Linked DNA regions of Homo sapiens: region 2 is linked to region 1. The links come from fine-mapping of genetic effects on plasma protein levels. Region 1 holds a variant in brackets. A gene starts in the other region. All regions are shown on their forward strands.

Region 1 (2,906 bases):
AGCAATTCTCCTGCCTTGGCCTCCCAAAGCACTGGGGTTACAGGTGTGAGCCACTGTATCCGGCCTCAAGTGTTTAATATGTGCCAGGCACTCTTCTAAATCCTTGACCTGGGTCATCTCCTTTATTTGTTTTTGTTGTTGTTGTTGTTTTTTGTTTGAGACACAGTCTCACTCTGTCACCCAGGCTGGAGTGCAGTGGCACAATCACAACTCAATACAACTCCACCCCCGGGGTTCAAGCAATCCTAGTGCCTCAGCCTCCTTAGTAACTGGGATTACAGGCATATGCCACCACACCCGGCTAATTTTTGTATTTTTAGTAGAGACGAGGTTTCACCATGTTGGCCAAGCTGGTCTTGAATCCCTGGCCTCAAGTGATCCACCCGCCTCAGCCTCCCAAAGTGATGGGATTACAGGCATAAGCCACCGCGCCCGGCCCATCTCCTTTAATTTTTATCATAAATCTGTGAGACAGGAACCATCTATTGTTATCTTCGTCATAGACTGAGAAAACAGAGCCAGGCAGGAAAGGGATAAATCCCACCTCCCCAGCATCCTCCAGCACGGGGTAAATCCCGGGGCACTTGCTGCCAACCCTGAAGCTGCATGGGAGCTCCTGTTCCCCAACCCTTTGTGTCTCCCTTTCTCTGCCCAGCCTGGCCTCAAGGACAAGCCCCTTCGAAGCAGTAGGAGGTGGAGGGAACCATTTAACGAAGTCCTTGGGGCTCAGCAGTGTCTCTCCACTTGCCCTACCCTGGAGGCCCAGGAGCAGCCTGGTTTTGCATCAGGAGCAAGGGTTCCGTTTCTGTGGGCTGGAGAGGGGCTGGTTTCTGTCAGGAGCAACAGATGCGCTCAGCCACAAGGGTGTGTCCCCAGACAACTCACACTTCACTTGGAGGTGAATCTCGCTCTGAGCCCTGTGATTGGCCACGGAGAGCTGGCAGCGCAGGATCCGGCCGTGGTCCTGCCAGGACATGGCCATGTGGAGGGTCTCCAGGTGGCCGACGCCGGTGGGCTCAAACTTCTGGCTGTTGAAGGTGACAGAGCGAGCAGGGTCCTGGCCTTGCCACTGCAGTCTGACCTGCTCCTGCAGGCATACGTAGGGAGTGGAGCAGTTGAAGTCCACCTCTGTGCCCTCGAGAAGCTCCACCGGGGAGGCAATGGTGGGCACCCTGGGCTCCTCTGAGGACAGAGACAGCAGTGCTCAGGACCCGCTTTTGCCACCCCTGAGATCCCTCGCCCTGGAAACCCCAGCTGAGGAGAGAGCCCTGGGGAGGGGGCTTTTAGGGGAAGGAAAGACGCTTTCTACTCCAGCCCCACTTGGGTGAATACAAGGGAGAACCAGGCCTGGGCCTACGCCGGGGCTGGAACAGAGGCTGAGACTGGCTGGGGTTAGATTCAGGACAAGGGCTGGGGCTGAGAGCCAAGGGGTCCAGAAGCAGCTTGGGAATCCCTCCCGGGGGGCAGCCAGGCCACCCCACTTATCACCTGTTACTGTGACCAAGGTGCCTTTCACATCTGACCAGCGGTTGACCTCACTGATCTCGAAGCGGAAGTTGTAGGAACCAGAGTCCTCGGGCTGCAGGTCCTTCAGCAGCAGGTTGCACACCCTGTGCTCGGGGTTCCCCATGAACT[C/A]GGTGCGGCCGCGGAAGCGGGCCTCCACCAGCTTGGGGTCCGCCGAGTGGCTCACCACCTGCCGCTGGCCCGAGTAGTCGTAGTACCAGATGGCCGTGATGCCGTCGGGCACCTCCACGTCGGCAGGGAAGCTGAAGATGCAGGGGATAAGCAGGCAAGACCCCTTCACACCCTGCACGTCCTGGGGACTGGAGACGCCCCATGAGGCCTGGCCTGGGGGAAGAACGGCAGGGGGACAGAGGGGAGGGTGATACAGGCCTCAGGGTGCCACAGAGCCCTGCGACCTGCCCCAGAGAAGGTGCCCCAGCTGGGCTCCCAAATTCTGCCCTGCCCCGAGAAATGCACACTTAGAGCAGCCCTTCTCAGTGCCCCAGGGGTCAGTCCACTGCCCGAGGCTGCTCAGAGGTTTGGTAGGGTGGCTCGAAGACAGATGGCAGCTTCCTGCCCAGCTCCTGGCCACTGCCCGATTGGGCCCTCCCTTGACCTCAGCAACCAAACATGTGACCCAGGCATAGTCTAATCTGCCAAGGGCTGGACTTATGAAGGCTGGACCCTGGAAGACAGGCACTAGGCCCGCAAAGCTTACCTGCTGGGAAGAATGAGGCCAGGAGGAGAAGCTTGGGCAAGAAGCCCATAGCAGGTTCTTGTGCTGCTCCTGTTGCCTAAGAGGGTGGTGCGCACTGCGCTGGCTGGGCTCACAGGGGCCTCCAGGGACACCTCTGGGCACTTTAGCCCCAGCACCTGCTAGAAGTCCGAGCCTGTGTCCCCACCTCCTCTGCTGGCCAACCCAATAAGAGGGCAGGGCTCTTAAAGACCTCTGAGTCAGACACCAGCAGAGAGCCAGGAGGCCACGTTCCCAGCTCAGGCTGTGCCCAGGAATGCCCTCACTTGGTGGCCTGCCTCAGAAAAGCCTGTGTGTCCCTTGGCCCTATCCCAAGTTCTGCTTTCCCAGCCCCTCAAGGATACCACCCTAAGGCAGATGAACAGCTGTTTCTCCCTCTTCCCCACTTCCCTGCCCCCTCCCCACCACCCAAACCAACAGGAACTGGAGCCCAGAGATGCCCAGTTACTCACTCCAAGACACCCAGCTAGAATGATGGTTTCTTCCTGAGGCTTGTCTCCTACCACCTGCCTTACTAACTATAGACCATAATGGGGCTTTACTGAACTTGCCGAAGTGCTGCCTTTAACAGTCACTCCCCTGCTCAAAAACCTTCTGTGGCTCCCCATTGCCCGTGAGATGTGAAAAGTCCTCATTTCCTGCCCCCAGC
Region 2 (2,906 bases), not on the chromosome of region 1:
TAACTAGGCATTTGGATGAATTAATTTATATGTATACAAAGAGAAATTTCTTTCTCAGTTAAATCCTGTTACATTATACTTCAGCTCTTACCATGGCCTTGTCATTGGGTTGAACTGGAGCTGTATTTTAGATTTTGCCAACAATAACAAGCGCTGCCAAGTACTTCAGCTGAGATCACCCAAATAATACTCTACTAGCAAAAGCTTTGCGTGGCGTTCTAACCATCAGAAACTGGTAAGTTCTATATCTCCAAGGTAGACCAAGGAGCCTGGGCCACTGTGTGTGCTGGGGAGTGAGAAAGGCATTGCCAATTGACCTCAGGTTGGGTCAGTTAGTCTCAGGTGGAAAGACTTGGATATGTAACCTTTACACACAACCATGCATTCTGAGAGAAGAGTCAATGAGCAAGACAACATGAAGTCTGGGGCAAGAGGTTGCTCAAATACTCACAATAAAGTAGAAATAAGGTCATTCCAACAACTTTAAGCACTACCACAATAAGCCCAGAGATGATCATGTGCCAGTTCATGATGAAGGAGCTGCAGGGGCCTGTGAAGATTAGAGCACAGCAGCATCAGAATTCGGGTACAAGGCTGCTTTTCACTAGGACATATCCCAGCCTCTCGCTCAGAGTACCCAAAGCAAGGCAGGCTTGGAAGACAGGCATGACATTGACAGGTACCAGGAGGTGACCCAGCGTGGGCCGCGAACACAGAAAGAATCATGTATTGATTGGAGCCTTGGAACTTGGCATACTGCCTCTCCTTCACTCATTCCCTACTCCAGGCCTCAGCCTTGCCCTATTTGTGGCCTCCTAAATTCTGTCTAATAATTAAACCCTCTCCTGTATTTTGAGAACCCTTATCCTTGAAATGACCCTTGTTCCCAAGGACCTTAGTCTGTAGCCTTCACCATACTGACTTAAGTTGTCAGAAGCCTCAGTCTTCCAAATACCAGGGGTAGGTGACAGACAGGACAGGCATCCCTGAAGGTCTTGGCATTGGTCAACAGTCCATGCAGCCAAGACAGACAGACAGACTCACCTCTTTCTCCCTGGAAGGCTAGGCTTGCTTGCAGATGGGGGTCTTCCTGGTGGCCTAATGCTTGGTGTGGCAGGCAGGGGCCCCGTCTCCTGAGAATATGCTCCTTTTGCCCAAGCAACGTTCTTCCTTCTTCACAGTCTCTGCCTTGGTAGCATCCCCAAGAAATACCTCTTCCTGTTCAGTGGGGTTCTTGGCAAAGGGAGCAGGCGGGGCAAAGAAGGGAAGAGACTCTCTAGCCCTAGTGGTGGCAAGAGCAGACTTCCTGCCAGGAGAGTTCTAATGCAGAGGAACATTTTAAGGACAATTTGGAAAACAAAATACCTCAACACAGATTCACCCTTCCTCTGTGTCTAAATCTCCTTGAAATACAGTGGGAAGAGAAATGTAGTAAAATTTTAACAAACATTGAATCTGGATAAAAGGTAGCTGGAAGTTATTTGTACTTTCCTTACAACATTTCTGCAAGTCTGAAATTATGTCAAGTTAAAAATGTTAAGAAATCCAGTTGAAGACACTAATATGAATGAGCAGGTTCTTGCTGTTCCATTTGCTCCATTTGCTGGAGCTCTGCTCATTCCCCTTTATCATGGACTCCTCTCTGGCACCACCTGCTCACCTTCCAGACCTCATGGTGGCTCTTCAGTGTTTCTTGAACATGGCACTCTGCTGGATACAGCAGTGGGCTGGGGTGAACAATACTCAAGTCCTATTGTCAAGGAGTTTTTAATTTCGTGTTAAATTTGAAAATTTGCTTTTATTTTCCCTACTATGAAAACTACTGTGCTCATGACAAAAAAATGGCTGGAAAATATTAACAAGGAAAATTGAGAAAACAAAACCATTTATAACCTTGTACATTTAGTTATAGTCATTGCTAGCACCTCAGGGTGTATCCTTTCGAGATGAGTAGGTAGATAGAAAGATAGATGGATAGATAGATAGATAGACAGAAAAACACTGGTTCACAAAGAACAATGGGAACATATTGTACATATTGTTTTGCAATCTATCTGCTCAAGATTAAGCTAACACTATGTTATATATATCTTTTCATGTCAAAATATAGATTTTGATAATGTATTATTTAATATGTGCATAGCATTCAGGTGTAAAACTATATGATTTATTTATTCAGGTGTAAAAGTATATTATTTCTTTAACAATTGCATAACCACAAATCTTCTAGTAAAGTGTGGTGGACAAGAACAAAGTTTTAAAAATCAGTCCTGCTTTTGATTCCTGGAGCTGACCTTCACTAGCTGAACATCCTTGATTAAGTTACTGAGTCTCTTTACCTTCCATTTCTTTATCTATAAATAGGAGTAATTATAGTAAATACCACATAGGATTGTTCCGAGAAATGAGCAAGATAATGCTTGTAATTTCAATAGCGTGATACTCAGCATCTTAAACATAAATCCTTAGTATTCTAACTATTTTCTAAAACTCTTCTAACTATCTTCCCAATGCACAGTGAACAGCTAAGTGCATGCATCCTTTTACATGTCCTTAATAACTTTCTTGGGCTAAGTTATCAGAAATATAAATGCTGGATCAAAAGACATGTACATTTGGAGGGCTTTGGAACATTAAAGTTGTGTTTTGTTCTACTTGGATAGTCCTCTGTGTTTTTGAAAAATCTCATTGAACCTGATTTATCTGGTCACAAGGTAATTACTTCTAGACCCTAGATTGCTGTCCAGAAGGATCCATATATTTATTGGACAATAAATATGGCCAATTATGCCAGCTATGTTAGGAAGTATGGGAATCAGGAGACTTGGTTATTATTATTTAGAAAGTTTTTAACAGAGACTTTCTGAATAACTTAATAAAATCTATACACTTGGATAGCAAGTGAA

Direction of the effects. Alleles are on the strand shown, and positions count from the first base shown. The strength of an association depends on the size of the effect and on how common the allele is.
For the plasma level of the protein whose gene starts at base 1,212 in region 2, C is the low allele of the variant in region 1 and A is the other (weak association).

What was found. PIP is the chance, under the fine-mapping model, that this variant and not a neighbour inherited with it causes the effect. The UK Biobank Pharma Proteomics Project read protein levels with antibody pairs (Olink). The fine-mapping took linkage between variants from a reference panel, not from the people measured, so its PIPs are less certain.
Region 2: CLEC5A starts here. The variant in region 1 is fine-mapped to the plasma level of the CLEC5A protein (UK Biobank, PIP 0.92).

What each region holds. Positions count from the first base shown.
Region 1 is chr20:3,704,859-3,707,764 of GRCh38, forward strand. It overlaps SIGLEC1 (sialic acid binding Ig like lectin 1), which reads right to left. Exons shown (of 22, transcript NM_023068.4): 2 at 2,222-2,379; 3 at 1,489-1,848; 4 at 886-1,182. The coding sequence starts at 2,270. Among named protein-coding and RNA genes, the nearest start is that of SIGLEC1, 6.3 kb to the right of the region's middle. The variant C/A (reference allele first, on the strand shown) is at 1,636.
Region 2 is chr7:141,945,763-141,948,668 of GRCh38, forward strand. CLEC5A (C-type lectin domain containing 5A) reads right to left here and starts at 1,212. Exons shown (of 7, transcript NM_013252.3): 1 at 1,045-1,212; 2 at 452-550. The coding sequence starts at 530. RefSeq lists an enhancer at 1-893.